Linked DNA regions of Homo sapiens. The protein of the gene in region 5 purifies or fractionates together with the protein of the main gene of each other region. This does not show direct contact. Each region holds a gene or a part of one and is shown on either strand. Other genes may lie near its edges. The genes, in order: DDX19A, PBDC1, MRI1, CAPG and TRUB1.

Region 1 (2,999 bases), on a different chromosome or scaffold from region 5:
ACTCAGGAGGCTGAGACAGGAGAATCGCTTGAACCCGGGAGGTGGAGGTTACGGTGAGTGAGATCGCGCCATTGCACTCCAGCCTGGGCAACAAGAGCGAAACTCCGTCTCAAAAATAAAAAAAGAAAGAAAGAAAAGGAACTCCCGCAGAAACCAGTAGTCCTGACTTGGTGGAAGGAAATGTACAGGCATCTGACTGGTAGAGAACGGAGCCTACTCTTCCAGGGGCGCCCATCTCCAGAACATTGTGTCTCCCAGAGGATTACCGACTGATCTCATGATTTTGTTGGCACTTGCCAAAGTTCTCTTCTTTTCCTCTGGGTTCTGTTGCCTGCCTATATGTGTGCCCTCTCTTGTACCCAGAGTTGGCCTGTCCCAAATTCTTTCCCTCTATCCCAAAGTTGGTACGCATTGACCTACCTATGGATGACAGTGATTTCTGTCTCCTGTCCTTAGTCCTCTCAGCCTCCAACTCTCCTTCCTGCAGGCATTGATGTTGAACAAGTGTCTGTCGTCATCAACTTTGATCTTCCCGTGGACAAGGACGGGAATCCTGACAATGAGACCTACCTGCACCGGATCGGGCGCACGGGCCGCTTTGGCAAGAGGGGCCTGGCAGTGAACATGGTGGACAGCAAGCACAGCATGAACATCCTGAACAGAATCCAGGAGCATTTTAGTGAGTCCCGGGGAGGGTCCTGTGCCTGGCGCCCTTTGCTAAGTAGGGCGGGGTGGTGAAAGGGGTAGGATCTTCTGTAGCCCCAAGAGAGGCTCTGTCCCTAGCACACTCCCCTCCTTTCTGACCATATGGCAGTTCTCAGGGAGCACACCTGGAGACTTCAGGACCCAGGGACTCCAAGGACAGCTCCCCTGTGACTGGGCTTCGGGGCGTGGGGCTCTGACTGTTGCTGTCAGTGACTAGGGGCCCTGCTGCCCCCTGCTTAGGCACCCGGAGCCTTTGGGCCTGAATGAATGATTGCTGTGGCCTGAGGTGGGGCACATTCCTGGGCAGGGTAGAGACTTGTGTATCTTTCCCCCAGATAAGAAGATAGAAAGATTGGACACAGATGATTTGGACGAGATTGAGAAAATAGCCAACTGAGAAGCTCCACCAGCCACTGATGCCAGCCCTGGCACTGCCCCTGCACAGGAGACAAGTGCATTTAGGGCACAGGCCCCGACATCACCCCAAGGACAACGGCAGAAGTAGAGAGAAACTACCTACCTCACTTCAAATTATGTTTGGACTTGACAAAAATAGGTGCAAATGATGGGGGGCAATAGAAGAAAAAATTTGCATTTTGGAAAATTGGGTCCTTTCCCCACTTTTTTAAAGCCACATTCCCCCATCTTTATAATAATCTGGTCACAGTGGTAGTCGCTGGCCCCAGGACCCCCTCCTGATTTTGGCTAGGCATCGTGGAACCAGCTCCAGCCCCTGAAGAAACGATAGATGTGCAGGTTGTGCGGAAGAGGCTGAGTGGAAAATGGTGTGAGCCCCACCGCTGTGCATCGAATGAGGGAAGTGGCAGCAGAGAGGCCAGAGCTGCCCCCTCTCTGTCTCTTCAATGGACCCTTCACAAGTGTTTCTCCTGCCCTTGGGGCTGTCTTCCTTCTCCTGAAATCCAGAGACTTTCTTGCTCATCCCTTCTCCCTTTCACTTCTGTTCTCTGCTGCAGAAAGCAGACTTGCATATCCCTGATGAGCAGCTCGGCTACTTTTGTAAACTTCAGATTTGGAGAGAAACACGAAAGTCTGAATCCTGACCCCTTGAGAGAGAGTGATCTGGCGAGGGCCGATGAAGGGGCTGGGCCTGGTCTTGCCTTCTCTTCTCTCGGTTGCTCCCTCTGCCTAGGCCCCTGGTACTCAGTCACGGCAGCCAGGAGACCCCAGGTGAGTTTCTGAGCGCATACGTAGTTGGTTCTTACCCCCAGGTGTCACACGGGGCCGAGAGCTGAGCAAGAATTTGGAATGGAAGTTATGACCAAGGGAATTATGCTGTTCATTTATAATAGTGGACATTATGGAGAGCTCTGATTCCTACATAATATGAATAAGGATGGATAGGCCGGGCGTGGTGGCTCATGCCTATAATCCCAGCACGTTGGGAGGCTGAGGCGGGCGGATCGGTTGAGCTCAGGCGTTCGGGACCAGCCTGGCCAACATGATGAAACCCCGTCTCTACCAAAAATAGAAAAAAATATAGCCGGGCCTGGTGGCGCACGCCTGTAGTCCCAGCTACTCGGGAGGCTGAGGTAGGAGGATCGCTTGAGCCTGGGTAGAGGCTGCTGTGAGCTGAAATGGCGCCACTGCACTCCAGCCTGGGTAACAGAGCGAGACCCCGACTCAATAAATAAATAAGGATGGATAAATTGTAGCGTATGCACCATTCATTATGCTAAGACATTTTAAAGTAATTATGAGAAACGCTCTACTAATGATTTGTTTTTATTTGTATTTTTCTGCTTATTAGACAAATATATACTCATTTTAAAAAGGCGTGTGTGTATATAAAGTGAGAGTGCTCTCTATCCCTTCTCTTCTGGGATCCTGATTCCTGGCAGCTTGGTGAATATTCTACCATATTGCCTTTTATTTGCATAAACCCATTTTTCTTTTACAAAAACAGGAACATTCTGTTCACACTACTATGCAACCTGCTTTCACTGATCAGCATGTGTTAGACATGTTGACATGTCCAATACACACACATCTTCCTTGCCCTGGAAACACCATCCACCTTCCTTTCTGCGTGTAGCTGTCCCGGCATTTATCTCCTGGTTCCTCTAGTGACAGGCATGGGGGATTTCTAGTACATGGCTGTTATCCACAGTACCACAATGAACATTTTTTTTTTCTTTTTTTGAGACAGAGTGTCACTCTGGCCCGGAGTACAGAGGCGTGATCTCGGCCCACTGCAACCTCTGCCTCCCAGCTTCAAGCAGTTCTCTTGCCTCAGCCTCCCAAGTAGCTGGGATTACAGGCACATGCCAGCATGC
Region 2 (4,017 bases), on a different chromosome or scaffold from region 5:
TGAAAGGGCTGATGGGTGGAGATTTAAAATGTCCAAGACAAAAAGGAGAAAAAAATAGACTCAACAACATGAAAAGTCCATAAACTGGAAAAACATTCATTTCCTAACTTAGTTGATTACAACTAGAAAAGAAGTTCTGGTTCTTTACATATTTTTCTCAAACAAAAAAAGAGCTTAAATGTAAAAAAACATTCGCAATCAAAAATTGTTGGTTAAATGCTAAGTAATATTTAAGAAAGAGAATTTTTACCTCTTTGGCTGATTCTGACTTGAGTTCTTCTGGGTCCAACACATCTATCCTAAGGGTCTCAAAATTTTTCCGGAACTCAGAGTAAATTTGGTCATCTACTTTGGTGAGTTTCAGGAACTGTGGGTCAACTGATGAAATCAGCTGCGAAACAGTAAGACAACATACAGATGCTAGTCTGTAATTTACTATACTTCTATCTTCCCCATCCCCACCAGAAAACCTTTATGGTTCTCAGGGCAGAAGATCTCTTCAGGAAGTGTCGACAGTCTACATCCTAGATGAAATCATGACACAGTTTAAGGCCATAATATATTATTACAATCCCTTCCACCAATTTGGCAGTTGGCTTACTTAACCACAGTACTGCCTGGCTATTGCCCTCCGTGGATTGTTCATTCATTCAACAAACATTTATTAAGTGCCTACTATGTATGGGCCAGACGCCCTTTTGTCAGTTAGCATTATAACGCTGGGCAAAGCAGCAGAACTCATTGTAGAAACAAATTTGCCTTCGCTCCTCTGTTGTCTGTGGGTAAGAACTTACATTAATAAAAACGATCTCCAAAACACAACTGTTTAACTTGCTGAGAATAGTGATAAGCAGAGCATCATACACTATAATTACATGTTTAATTCTGCTTAATGATGAAGAAAGACAACTCACCTTGTAATAGACTTCAGCATGCTGCATTGCTCTCATGGCCCAAGCCATCTCAATGTCAGGCTGCAAAGGAGTGAAGAATGCCAGGTCATAAATCTCCCCATCCTACTACTGAATAGCAAATTAAGGAAGTATGTGGATGTCTAGTTAATGCTCAAGAGGGCTACCAAACTTGATGTTACTGTCAAATGATAAAAACTGGAGTAATAAATTTGGACAATAATTATTTTGTCTGTATGACAACCAAAAAAAGCTACCTACACAGTATAATGAACACAATGAGCCACCGGCTATCTTTTCCCAGCTGCTAGTGAAAGCTGGGAGACTAAATAAAGCAGGAGATAAATCACCTTCTCAGGATTGAGTTAAATCATTGTAAAACTGAAATAATATACCCATCAATTCCACTGAGTTGTTGGGAGAACAAAGAATCAAAATGAAAATTACTTTTCACTTTTAAGACTGAAGCATGTCATAATCATTTTTGTTTACCAAACAGCCAATTCCCCATACTGTAACACCTAGAAATGAATTAGCACATGAAACAGGTCAAGGTTATAATAAGTCTTACCAAGCACCCCACTGGAGGTTCCACTGGAATCTCCCATTCCAACGAGACCGAGCTATTTCACTGACTCCAGAAAAAGCCATTTGCATTTGTTACCTCCATGCCTTAGACCATGCACTTTTCCCACGTGCCAATCCATGTCCTTTGTCCACCTACACTTTGAGGATACAGGTAAAGCTCCATTTCCTCAGTCAAGTCTTCCACTGCCTTGGCCCCTTAGGGATTTCTCCTTCAGCTAAATTATTTGGATCTTATGGCCTGACCCACTCATTATATGTATCACACTCTTATTTGGGTGTTTTTACTATTCTCACATCCTCTTGTCTTGTTTTGGAAAATACCTCATATACTTTCTCAGTAATTTTCTAAACCAGACACACCATAAGCTGCACAATGGAATCCCTCAGAGACCCTTTAAAAATACTGATTCTTGGCTCTCATTACCCAGACATTCTGATTTAGGTGGTATGAACTGCAATCTAGGCAGCGGGATGTTTAAAAGCTCCCCAGTAATTCTAAAGCGTGGCCAACTTGGGGAACCACTTCCACAGGCGTTAGTCCTGCGTTTGTGGACCAAGATTAAAACGAACTGAACGAAGGTGCAGTTTCTGGTGTAAGTGGAGAGGGTCTGCAGTAGATTATCAGGACGTGAAGTTATAACTTAGTGGCAGGCAGGTCCTGCAGAGATCCCAGGCTAGCTGAGTGGGTGGGAGCTGTGGGTGAGTCATACTCACATCGTTGCCATACGACTCTGCTGGGAGAGAAAGCGCATGTGCCACAGACACCAACTCCCCGGAAACCTAGAAAGGAGGAAAAAGAGTTCAAGGCTCCCCCCAAGGCCGGGCGCGGTGGCTCCCCCCAAGGCCAGTCGCAGTGACTCGTGCCTGTAATCCCAGCACTTTGGGAGGCCGAGGCGGGCGGATCGCCTGAGCCCAGGAGTTTGAGACCAGCCTGGGCAACATGGCGAAACCCCGTCTCTACAAAAAATACAAAAAATGTAGCTGGGCGTGGTGGCACGGGCCTGTAGTCCCAGCTCCTCGGGAGGATGAGGTGGGCGGAAGATCTGAGCGCTGGAGGTCGAGGCTGCAGTAAGCGGTGATCCCACCACTGCACTCCAGCCTGGGCGACTGAGTGACACCTTGTCTCAAAAAAGAAAAAAAAAAGGCTCCACCTGGCTCGACCTCCCCACTCACCCGACCCCAGAACAGCGTCTCACCGGCTCATCAGTTCCACTGGTGGCCGCCATCTTGCAACCCCCGAAAGCGTGGCTCCTTCCGCAGCTGATTGGAAAGCTGAGCCGGATCAGAGTCCTTCTCAACTGGCGGCTCCACCGTGCGCTCTCCCTCCAGCTGAGGAAGTTGCTGGCCCCGCCTTACCCTCCCCGCACAGGCGCAGAGGTGGAGTACTGTTGCGTAGGCTGGACTGCTTGAGAGATCTGAGGTGATTGACTCGTCAGTAATTTTCGGTGGTGATCACGGGAAAAGGTTGTGTTAAAATAGTGCCCCTTTCTTGTCTTCACTGCGCCGTGTGCCCAGCAAAAATTCAAATTTACTCTCCATTCATATGCGCATATACGCACATGCGCATACACATACACACCAGTACCCCAAACCAGGGAGTGATTCACGAAAATGCATGGTGCTAGGGCGCAGAGTGCAGGAATGAAGAATTTAGTCCCTGCCTTGGAACAACTAGATATAGTGAGGGACCGGATACAGTAGTGCTCACAGCATAGCATCGGATGATGTGGGAGCATGAATGGGGGATACCTAAGCTGAATCATGAAGGGGAGCTTAGCCAAGCAGACAGGGAAAGACAGTCCAGGCAGAGGGAATAGCACAAACAAAGCCATTAGTGGCACCTTGCTGGGAATTACAAAAGCAGTATAGCTGAATCCAAAGTGGAGTCATCTATAATCATTTGAGGGAGCACAGGGCCTTTGGTATGCTGAATGTTAAAGAGTAGAGAGTTTACCCTTAGAGCAACAGTAAGCTACTGAAGATTTTTAAGTAGGCCAGCTTCATGGTCAGATTTAACTTTTATGATCACTCTAACACAACATAGAAGATTAATTTGAGGAAGACAAAATTGGAGACAGAGACACCAGTTTGAAGGCAGTGGGTGATGAAAATCTAAACTAAAGCAGTGGCAGTTGAGATGAATTTTGAGAATTAATGGGGCTTAGAATCAATAGAACTTTTTGACTAATTTCATGTAGAGGATAAAGGGGAATTTGGATTCTAGTATGACTCCCAGATTTCAGAATAGGATTTGGGCATAAATATCGTTGAGCAAGGGAACACAGAGGAGAAATGATGAGTTTAATTTGAGAAGTTAAGTTATAAGAGCCTATGGGTCATTCAGATAGAATTGACCAGGCAGAGGGAGATCTGATCAGAGATAAATTTGATAGTTGGTACTTCAGGTTTAGTTGAGCTTTCATAAGAAATCTCTAAAGTACTGTAAAGACATAAAAAGCAGCAGGTCAAGCATTTATGAAGGAAAAAAGGCAGCAAAAAAAAAAAGTTGTCGATTGTC
Region 3 (3,518 bases), on a different chromosome or scaffold from region 5:
CACTTGAGCTCAGGAGTTCAAGACCAGCCTGGGCAACATTGCCAGACCACAATCTCTAAAAAAATTGTTTTGCCAGGTGTGGTGGTTCATGATTGTAACCCCAGCACTTTGGGAGGCTGAGGCGGGCGGATCACCTGAGGTCAGGGGTTCGAGACCAGCCTGGCCAATGTGGTGAAACCCCGTCTCTACTAAAAATACAAAAAAAAAAAACGTTAGCTGGGCGAGGTGGCAGGCGCCTGTAATCCCAACTACTTGGGAGGCTGAGGCAGGAGAATCGCTTGAACCTGGGAGGCACAGGTTGCAGTGAGTTGAGATCATGTCACTGCACTCCAGCCTAGGTGACAAGAGCAAAACTCCATCTCAAAAAAACAAAAAAACAGCTAGACATGATGGTGCACATCTGTGGTCCCAGCTGCTCAGGAGGCTGCAGCAGGAGAATCGTTTGAATCCAAGAGGCAGAGGTTACACTGAGCCAAGATCGCACCACTGTACTACAGCCTGGGTGACACAACGAGACTCTGTGTCAAAAATAATAATAATAATTAAAAATAAAACTAAAAAAATAAGTGGGATGGGCCAGGTGCGGTGGCTCACGCCTGTAATCCCAGCACTTTGGGAGGCCGAGGCGGGCAGATCACCTGAGGTCGGGAGTTTGAGACCAGCCTGACCAACATGGAAAAACCTCGTCTCTACTAAAAATACTGGCTGGGCATGGTGGTGCATGCCTGTAATCCCAGCTACTCGGGAGGCTGAGGCAGGAGAATTGCTTGAAACCTGGGAGGTGGAGGTTGCAGTGAACCAAGATCGTGCCATTGCACTCCAGCCTGGGCAACAAGAGCAAAACTACATCTCACAAAAAATAAAAAAATAAGTGGCATAGATGTGTATAGGACTTTGAATTTTTCTTGGGGACTGACATTCTAGGGGCAGTGGCGAGTCTAAACTTACTATTGAGTACAATGTCCATGCCTGCATGTACTTTTGGGGTGAGAATCCTCAGGTTCTCAAGGACTCCCCAACTCCAAGAACCACTGTGGTAGAAACAGATGACTACAACCTGAGAACTTTCACAGAAGCAAATTCTTGCCTCCTTGCCTCCCCTCTCTCCCCTGCAGGGATTGGAGTTTGGAATCCTGCCTTCGATGTCACCCCCCACGACCTCATCACTGGTGGCATCATCACAGAACTGGGGGTCTTTGCCCCTGAGGAGCTCCGGACAGCCCTAACCACCACCATCTCTTCCAGGGATGGAACCCTAGATGGACCCCAGATGTAACCAACTCAGCTCTCCCTAGCCTGCCTCTCTAGGTTTTTCAATACATTTCTTGAATGGCTACCCAAAAGCTGACCGTCCAGCCCCTGACCACACTTGTTCCTAGTGCAGGGAGCTCAGACAGGGCCTTCCATCTAGAGCCCAGCACCTAGAGCCAGGCTGCCCAGATTCAAATCCTGACTCCGCCACTTTTCCCACTGTATGATCTTGGGCAAGTCACTTCACCTCTCTGTGCCTTGGTTTCCTCATTTATAAAATGTGGATAACAGGCCGGGCGCAGTGGCTCACACCTGTAATCCCAGCACTTTGGGAGGCCGAGGCAGGTGGATCACAAGATCAGGAGATTGAGACCATCCTGGCTAACATGGTGAAACCCCATCTCTACTAAAAATACAAAAAATTAGCCGGGTGTGGTGGTGGGCACCTGCAGTCCCAGCTACTTGGGAGGCTGAGGCAGGAGAATGGCGTGAAACTGGGAGGCAGAGCTTGCAGTGAGCCGAGATAGCGCCACTGCACTCCAGCCTGGGCAACAGAGCGAGACTCCGTCTCAAAAATAAATATAATTAATTAATTATTTAATTAAAAAAATAAAAAATAAATGTGGATAATACTAGTACCTCCCTCTTAAGGTCAGGGCTGGAGCTAGGGTGACATCTCCAGGGCAGAATTTTAAGAGGACACCAAAAAAGCTCAGCAACCAAGATAAAAAATATTTTAAAGCAATATTTTGTTTTGGGTTTTTTTTTTTTGAGATCAAGTATCACTCGTTACCCAGGCTGGAATGTAGAGGCGAGATCTCAGCTCACTGAAACCTGTGCCTCCCCGGTTCAAGCGATTCTCCTGCCACAGCCTCCTGAGTAGCTGGGATTACAGGCATGCGCCACCATGCCCAGCTAATTTTTCTATTTTTAGTAGAGACATGATTTCACCATGTTGGCCAGGCTGGTCTCGAACTCCTGACTCAAATGATCCCCCTGCCTCAGCCTCCCAAAGTGCTGGGACTACAGGCATGAGCCACTGTGCCTGACCTTACAGCAGTATTTTTTAAAAATCAAAATTAATGCAAAAATCCATGATGAGGCCAGGCTTGGTGGCTCATGCCTGTAATTCCAGCACTTTGGGAGGATCCCTTGAGCCCAGGTGTTTGAGACCAGTTTGGGTAACATAGGAAGAGCTTGTCTCTACAAACAAAAATTTAAAAACAATGAGCTGGGCATGGAACTCACACCTCTAGCCCCAGCTACTCAGGCTGAAGTGGGAGGATGGCTTGAGCCCAGGAGTTCAAGGATGCAGTGTGCTTTGATTGCACTACTGCACTTCACCCTAAGCAACAGAGTGAGACCCCATCTCTTTAAAAAAAAAAAAAAATCCATGATGAACAAAACAAGTATTTGTTTGAGACGGGGTCTCGCTCTGTCGCCCAGGCTGGAGTACAGTGGTGCCATCTCAGCTCACTGCAACCTCCGCCTTCTGGGTTCAAGCGACTCTCCTGCCTCAGCCTCCCGAGTAGCTGGGATTACAGGAGCCTGGCACTATGCCTGGCTAATTTTTGTATTTTTATTGGAGACACCATGTTAGTCGTGGCTGGTCTCCAACTCCTGACCTCGGGTGATCCGCGCCCCGCGGCCTCCGAAAGTGCTGGGATTACAAGCGTGAGCCACCGTGCCCGGCCTAAATAAAATTTTGAAGAGGCTAGAACCCCGCACTTGTGCCTTGAGCTTACTGACCTCAACACCCTGGTTCCACTAAAACTTTATTTACAAAATTATGCTGCCGGTCTGCAGGATGTAGTTTAACAATTTGATTATTTTGGATATTAAAATATTTTTTAAGTCTTGAAAATATTGTTTACTATTACCAAAGTTTTTGAACCTTCTTAAATTCTGTACCAGAGGTGAGTGCCACACCCTAACCTAGTCTGAGTTTTTATGTGTAAAGATCATAAAACGTTGTAAGTTTTCTAAAACACATAAGCTCTCAATAAACGTTAGCTTATCATTGTCACCGTTTTGTTCGTAATGTTTGAAAACTCCAACTGTGATCCACTACACTACCCTTGTGGGATGCTGTCTCTTTAACTCTGTGCCACGTTGTATCCCGTGAGTTCTTGCGTTTTTCCGCCCCGCTGTATCCCATGGTTCCCTGTGCCTTCCGGCTACGACTGCTCACAGTCCCGCCTCTTCCGCTGCGTGCCGGACCATGGCGCAGGGGCAGCGCAAGTTTCAGGCGCACAAACCCGCAAAGA
Region 4 (3,518 bases), on a different chromosome or scaffold from region 5:
CCCCTTCCTTGTCTCAGCACGTGTAGTCCTCACCAAGAGCTCCTGGATTGATCTCCCTGCCCCAAATCTTCAGCGCCACAAGACGCAGCCCATACTCCTCAGCCAGCCAATCTCCTCATGACCTAGGGCTCACCTTCCACCTTGCTTAGGAATTTCCCTCCCCCTGCTCCTGTCCCCCAGCCCGGGTCCCAGTCTCACTAGACCCCTGGTGTGTGCATGTCTGCACCCTTCCCCACCTTGGTGGCTCAGCTCACCTTCTCCCTTTGCCTGGAGTGGCATCTCCCCTCCTATAGGTCTAGTCCAATGTCACCTTCCTGGGACAACTGGCTTCGGCTCAGGCTAGAGGGCCCCTCCCTGCCCCAAGACCCCCCCAGCACATGGCAGCTGTCCCCCTTAAAGCCCTCATCACATCCTGCCTCAGGTTATGGCAAGTGACTGGCCCATCTTGGCTGCCTCCCCAGAGCGAGCTTTTATGGTCCCTGTGCTGGCTCAGAGAGAGCATCATAGATTCACTGAACGAAGAGATAAATGACTGAATTAATGAATGGTCTGGCAGGCAGTGAACTCAGAGGCTTCCAAGAGGAGGGAAAAAGCTCCAGAGCATCAGAGGCAATGTCTAGATGGCAGAAGGAGGCTGGCATCAGTCCTTACAAATATAGGGACATTCTCCAATGGTCAGAGTGATCTCACTTGGAATGGGTTTACGGCTTCTCAGCTTCTCTCCCTCTTTCCTGGCCTCCTGCCCCTCCGTCCTTATAAAGGATGGTGCCAATACGGAGTGCTCAGTCTGGCCAGCCTACCCACCTGGCCCAGGTCCAGGATGAAGCAGTCCCCAGTGTTGAAGCTGTCCCAGTTCAGTGCCCGCTCGGTGGCACGGATGTTCTTCTTCCCCTTCACCTGGTAGAGTTTCTTGATGGCAGCTGGGGCTCCTGTGGAGGTCTTGTGAAATGCTGACTCCACACCACCTTCCTGCAGCCCAGACGGCCCATCTGAGTGGACTGACAGGAGACCCAGAGCCCTCTGCACCCCATCCCACTGGAAGACGGGCAGAAAGGTGGGGACCCGGCTCCAAAGGCACCCGGGTCTTCTGCAGGGTGAGAACCAGCCAGAAGCAGGGCTGGCTCTGAGGGAAGCTGCAGGGTGGGGGTGCCTAGAGGTGGGCTCTGACCTGGTACTTGAGGCCCCGTGGGAAGTAGCTCATGAAGAGGTCAGACTCATTGCCCTGCACCTCGCGGTGCTGCACAGGCCGCTCTCCCAGCAGCGTGTTGAGGTGCACAGCCAGCACGGCACAGGCCCCCTGCTCATCCCGGGATGACTGCTGGCCTGGGACAAGTGGGAGAGGGCAGGGCAAGGCCCTTGTGATCCATACCAGCCCCCTCCCTCCCCTTCCTGGGCCCAACCTTCCCCCATCCAGATCCCCTTACCTATCCACAGGTGCAGATGGGAAACCTCTTCTGGGCCATTGTGCAGCACTAGGTAGGAGTCCCCCGAGAAGAAGACGCCCTGGTTCTCTTGCGCCACAGGCACCGGCTTCAGCTTCTCCACCCGCCACACATGCAGGCCTGGATCCTGCACTGAGCCTGGGAATGGAGAGCCACTGCGAGAAGAGAGAGGGTTGACAGCAGCCTGGACCCACTTGCCCAAGCACAGCCCTGGGCAGGCCTGGCGACTGCAGTCTGGGGATGAGGAGAGCAGTGGGGAGGGGCAGCCCTTGGAGGTAAAGAAGGGGAAGTTGTGAAAGGAGATGGGGCATGCAGCTTACCTCTGGGGAATGGCTGTGTACATGCTGTCTTCAGATCTGGAAAGAAAGAAGAAGCCATTATTATTACAAATGCCACAAAAAGGACCTCTCACGTGGGGCTGGAGAGGCCCTTTCCAGTGGCCAAGTACTTTCATATTCATCAACTACTCCACCTCTAGGAGCCCTAGTTCCATTATGCAGACAAAGAAAATGAGTCTCAGAAATGAGTCCAAGGCCACACAGCTAGTGAGTGGTTCATGGAAATAAGGTCTCTGACCCCTGGGCCAGGGTCTTCCGTCTGCTGAGATCTCACAGAAATTAAAATAAAAGCAGAAATTAACAGAAAACAGAAACAAGAGAGAAGAGCAATGAATTTTTTTTTTGAGACTGAGTCTCACTCTGTTGCCCAGGCTGGAGTGCAGTGGTGCGATCTCGCCTCACTGCAACCTCCGCCTCCCGGGTTCAAGTAATCCTCCGGTCTCAGCCACCCAAGCAGCTGGGATTACAGGCAACACCATCACACCTGGCTAATTTTTGTATTTTTAGTAGAGATGGGGTTTTGCCATGTTGCCCAGGCTGGTGTTGAACTCCTAACCTCAAGTGATTTGCCCATCTCAGCCTCCCAAAGTGCCGAGAGTATAGGCATGAGCCACCATGCCTGGCCTCAAGTTGGCTTTTTTTTTTTTGGAGACAGAGTCTCACTCTGTCACTCAGGCTGGAGTGCAGTGGCGTGATCTCAGCTCACTGCGACCTCTGCCTCATGAGTTCAAGTGATTCTTGTGCCTCAGCTTCCCAAGTAGCTGGGATTACAGGCCCACACCACCACGCCTGGCTAATTTTTGTATTTTTAGTAGAGACAGGGTTTCACCATGTTGGCCAGGCTGGTCTTAAACTCCTGACCTCAGGTGATTCACGCGCCTCAGCCTCCCAAAGTGTTGGTATTACAGGCGTGAGCCACCGTGCCTGGCAAGTTGTTTTTTTAAACCGATAAAATTGATAAATCTTTAGACAAACTGATTAACAGAAAGAGAAAACACAAATATCAATACAGAAATGAGAGATGTGAGATCACCATAGATTTTACAGATATTAAAAGGATAAAGGGAATATTATAAAAACTTTATGCCAATATATTCAACCACTTATATAAAATGGGCAAATTCCTTCAAAGACACAAATTATGAAAGCTCATTCAAGAAGACACAGATTATCTGAACAGTGGCCATATCTATTAAAGAAAATAAATTTGTAGTAAAAAACTCGTTCCCCCGCCAAAAAACCCAAGCCCAGATGGCTTCCCTGGTAATTTCTACCAAAAATTTAAAAAGGACATAATACCAATTGTACACAAAATCTTCAAAAAAAGAGATGACAGAACACTTCTCAATTCATCCTATGCTGCCAACATTCTCCTGATAACAAAACCAGATAAATATATTATGCAAAAAGAAAATTACAGATCAGTATCTCTCATGAACATACACATACAAAAATTAACACAATTTGGCTGGACACGGTGGCTCACGCCTGTAATCCCAGCACTTTGGGAGGCCAAGGTGGGTGGATCATGAGGTCAGGAGTTCGAGACCAGCCTGGCCAACATGGTGAAACCCTATCTCTACTAAAAATACAAAAATTTGCTGGGTGTGGTGGCACGTGCCTATAGTCCCAGCTACTCAGGAGGCTGAGGCGGGAAAATTGCTTGAACCCAAGAGGCAGAGGCTGCAGTGAGCTAAGCCCATGCCATTGTACTCCAGCCTGGGTGACAGAGTGAGAC
Region 5 (3,518 bases):
CCAGCCTCTCCTGCCTCCAAATAACCCCTTCTCTCTTCTATCAAGTGCCTGGAAAAGTGCTTTTGGATCTATTCAAGGTTACTCTCATATATGAACATACTTTATCATCTTAAAGAGGCCCTACTCTTTTCTTTAATAAACATTTATAACCATTGAACAAAGCATATTTTTGCTCAAAGGGCACAGTTTACAAAATGGTATTGTTTCTATAAAAATTCCAAGGTTTAAAAAAGTCTGTCACTAGAGTTTATGACCTCTAAGTCCCAATCATCTAAGAAATATGATGTTTTAAAAGTCTAAATATAATTTTGTTAAATGATGAGCACTGTAGCATTGTTTCTTTAAGTCTAATTGGTTTTTCAATTAAGAATTTCCAATTTTCAGTCTCGATATTTTCAATCTCAGATATGTTTATAGACATAATTAATACTCAGGAATGATACCCATTCATGCAGTTTACTCAGTTTATTTTTTATTTGATAAAAACCCAATACATGTAGATCATTAAGAACATTAAAGAAAAATAGAACTATTTCAGTATTCTTACCTTGGACCCTGACAACATACTGGTCAACATTTTTGTTCCGCTTCCAATTCCAACAACTACAAATCAAAGAAAGAAATATTATGACACTCTGTTCTGAAAACTAGGTTTTTAAAATAGCTATATTTTTTGGTCATAATTTCCCAGCTTAGGTAATGTGAAGTGGGAAAGAACAGATATTTAGCAAAATGTTAGGGCTCCTATTACTCCAAACAGTTGAACTTGTCATGCAACTAAGAAATTCTAAAGAAGGGACAAGAGAAGACCTTTCTCCCCATTCTCAAAGTATTAAACTCAGTAGAAACCTTAACCCAGCCAATTAGACAATGAAGCCTTAGAACAATCTCAAAGGACGCACTGGAATTTTATATGGGCACCAGTGAAAAACACACGGCACAATTAACCATGTTCAAGTGGGTATGATAAAGTCTTTTGACAGAATTCATTATTAAACAAAGCAAAAGCCATTATCACAGCTAATGAACCATTTAAAGATGATTAGCACCCAGCAGTATATACAATCAAGAAAAGAGAAACATAACAAATCAGTCTAACACAAAGAATACAAGGTAAAATGAAGGCTGAAGAATGTATTTACAGAGCCCAAAGTACAACAATGGCCTACCTTTCTCTTAAATTTCAAACATTATTCATACGTCAACACATTTCACTTGGTGAGGGTGAGAGGATTTAGTCACTTCTCTTTTTGTTAAGAAGCCACATTTTTGTAAGTATAGAAATATTTGTCATCAACAGATATAACTGTGCATAAGAACACAATACAATCACCACAATTCAGAATTATAAGAGTAAACAAGGACTACTGATTGGCAAACTAGAAAAAATATCTCCAATATTTACAGCAAATACCATTCAGTGAGTTTACCATGTATCAGATTCTACTCTAAATGCTCTCCTTTCATTATCCCATTTAATCCTTATAACAACTTTAAAAGGCCAGGTGTGTTGGCTCACGCCTGTAATCCCAGCATTTTGGGAGGTTGAGGCGGGCGGATCACCTGAGGTCACGAGTTCAAGACCCACCTGACCAACATGGAGAAACCCCGTCTCTACTAAAAATACAAAATTAGCCAGGTATGGTGGCGCATGCCTGTAATCCCAGCTACTTGGGAGGCTAAGGCAGGAGAATCGCTTGAACCCAAGAGGCAGAGGTTGCGGTGAGCCAAGATCACACCATTGCACTCCAGCCTGGGTGACAAGAGCAAAACTCTGTCTCAAAAAAAAAAAAAAAAAAACTTTAAAAGATAGTATAATTACCCCTGTTGATAGATGAGGAAACAGGAATAAGAGACTAAGAACTTTGTCCAGCATCTCACAACCAGTACCTGGTAGAGTTAAGATTCAAACCAAATGGTCTAAGAACAGACCCCCCTTCCTTTCCATTCCCTCTGCCACCTTAACTCACCTAGGCTTTCTCCTCACTGCAACCAGCCTACATCCCTGCAAACCTGACGGTTCTACATCCTATCCCTTCCTCTTCCAATTCATACCACTTCATAACCATTTCTGAAACCCTATTTTTCACATTACAAAGCCCCCCAAACAATCCTTAGTAGGGTCCCAGTGCCTACAGCACCAACTCCTTATTAAAGTATTCAAAGTCAATCCTTTGAAGCCCAGCTCAAGCCCCAACTCATTCATAAAGTCTATTCCAACCTCCTCAAAACCTCTATGACACTCATCTGTATTGTCCTTCTAAGTCATATAGTTCAAGGTCTAAGATCAAAAACAGTCTGTCCTCAGTAATCCTCTGAAGAGCATAATACTCTTCAAATGACAGAACTTGTAGATACTGCTGCTGATGAGGCAAACAGGAAAGATTCAATGCGACTTGATTCCATTCAAATAAATCTCCAATCAATTTTTCTTGAACAACTACTATGCACATAATCCCAAGAGGAATACTTCCAATGGAAAAACAAAGAAACCTGTGACACATTTCCTAACTCTGAAACAGCTTATAATCTCATCAGGAAAATAAAATACAGAAAAATCACAGTGCTCAAGAAATGTTGCCTAATGAGTGAATAATGCTAAATAACAATATGATAGTATATGATTAAGTGTCAAATGAACAGAGAGAGAACCGCTGCCAAAGCAGGGCAAAGGTGGGAGCATCCTAAACGGCTAAAGAGGCCGGAGAATGCTTCATTCAAGCATTTCGGAGTTTGTATTAGGCCTTTGAAGGATGTATAGGGAACACAACAGAGAGAAGAGAAGCATGTTCTAAAAAAGAAAATAATTGCACAAACTCTCAGATACAAGGATGAGAACAGTAGGTTTATCAACTGAACACAGGGTGTCTTAGAAGCAGACTGACATGTTTGACTTTAACATGGCTGAAATACTGAACTCATGATGGTTTCTGAGCTAGTTTAGTGACCCAGAAGGATAAAATTTAAAAGAAGCCATCTTAGAGTTACCCAGCTTAATCCTCTCATTTTAACCTAAGAATAACCAAATGCCATTGAAGTGAGGTGATTAGTGAAAGCAGAATTTTAGGAAGACTAATATGGTGGTGGCATATAGAAAAATTATCTGGAGTTGGGACCTAGCCAACCAGCAGCTTTTCATTCACAGGTTAGTTTCCCGGACAGAATTTTTACTCGGCATTTTTTCCCTTCAATCATTCAAAATTGTATCCAGTACTTATTGTGTAGGTACAGAAATAAATAAGACCTGGCTTCAGCTGTGATTTAACAATATAATAGGGAGACAGATATTAACAAAAACTAAAAGAACAAAATGAAATTTTACATTAGCAGTATAGAAGAGCAGCAGGCAGGCTTCAAAGGTAGGAAATGGCATTTCAGCTGAACCTGGAAAGGTCAGTAGGACTTCTACAACCAAAGGTGCTGAGAGAGATGAGCAGCTTATAAAAGAAAAACATGAGCAAAGGCACCACATTTGAAAAGGTGTGGAGAATTTAGAGAGCAGATGAATAACGGGGTTT

What was found.
Region 1: the proteins of TRUB1 (region 5) and DDX19A fractionate together in Homo sapiens (co-fractionation; one large-scale study listed by BioGRID). This does not show direct contact.
Region 2: the proteins of TRUB1 (region 5) and PBDC1 fractionate together in Homo sapiens (co-fractionation; one large-scale study listed by BioGRID). This does not show direct contact.
Region 3: the proteins of TRUB1 (region 5) and MRI1 fractionate together in Homo sapiens (co-fractionation; one large-scale study listed by BioGRID). This does not show direct contact.
Region 4: the proteins of TRUB1 (region 5) and CAPG purify together in Homo sapiens (affinity purification with mass spectrometry; one large-scale study listed by BioGRID and IntAct). This does not show direct contact.

Annotation. Positions count from the first base shown.
Region 1 is NC_000016.10:70,370,885-70,373,883, forward strand, and holds the end of DDX19A (ATP-dependent RNA helicase DDX19A), read left to right. Parts: intron 1-487; coding exon 488-679; intron 680-1,040; coding exon 1,041-1,102; 3' UTR 1,103-2,499; downstream 2,500-2,999. UniProt on the Homo sapiens protein: ATP-dependent RNA helicase involved in mRNA export from the nucleus.
Region 2 is NC_000023.11:76,171,847-76,175,863, reverse strand, and holds the start of PBDC1 (protein PBDC1), read right to left. Parts: upstream 2,803-4,017; 5' UTR 2,726-2,802; coding exon 2,696-2,725; intron 2,280-2,695; coding exon 2,214-2,279; intron 975-2,213; coding exon 915-974; intron 392-914; coding exon 251-391; intron 1-250.
Region 3 is NC_000019.10:13,771,006-13,774,523, forward strand, and holds the end of MRI1 (methylthioribose-1-phosphate isomerase), read left to right. Parts: exon of another isoform or gene 1-877; intron 878-1,115; coding exon 1,116-1,276; 3' UTR 1,277-3,277; downstream 3,278-3,518. Other genes in the region: C19orf53 (leydig cell tumor 10 kDa protein homolog), read left to right, coding at 3,473-3,518.
Region 4 is NC_000002.12:85,400,361-85,403,878, forward strand, and holds part of CAPG (macrophage-capping protein), read right to left. Parts: intron 1,799-3,518; 5' UTR 1,786-1,798; coding exon 1,763-1,785; intron 1,598-1,762; coding exon 1,425-1,597; intron 1,324-1,424; coding exon 1,169-1,323; intron 970-1,168; coding exon 805-969; intron 1-804. UniProt on the Homo sapiens protein: Calcium-sensitive protein which reversibly blocks the barbed ends of actin filaments but does not sever preformed actin filaments. May play an important role in macrophage function.
Region 5 is NC_000010.11:114,948,179-114,951,696, reverse strand, and holds part of TRUB1 (pseudouridylate synthase TRUB1), read right to left. Parts: intron 604-3,518; coding exon 548-603; intron 1-547. UniProt on the Homo sapiens protein: Pseudouridine synthase that catalyzes pseudouridylation of mRNAs and tRNAs. Mediates pseudouridylation of mRNAs with the consensus sequence 5'-GUUCNANNC-3', harboring a stem-loop structure. Constitutes the major pseudouridine synthase acting on mRNAs.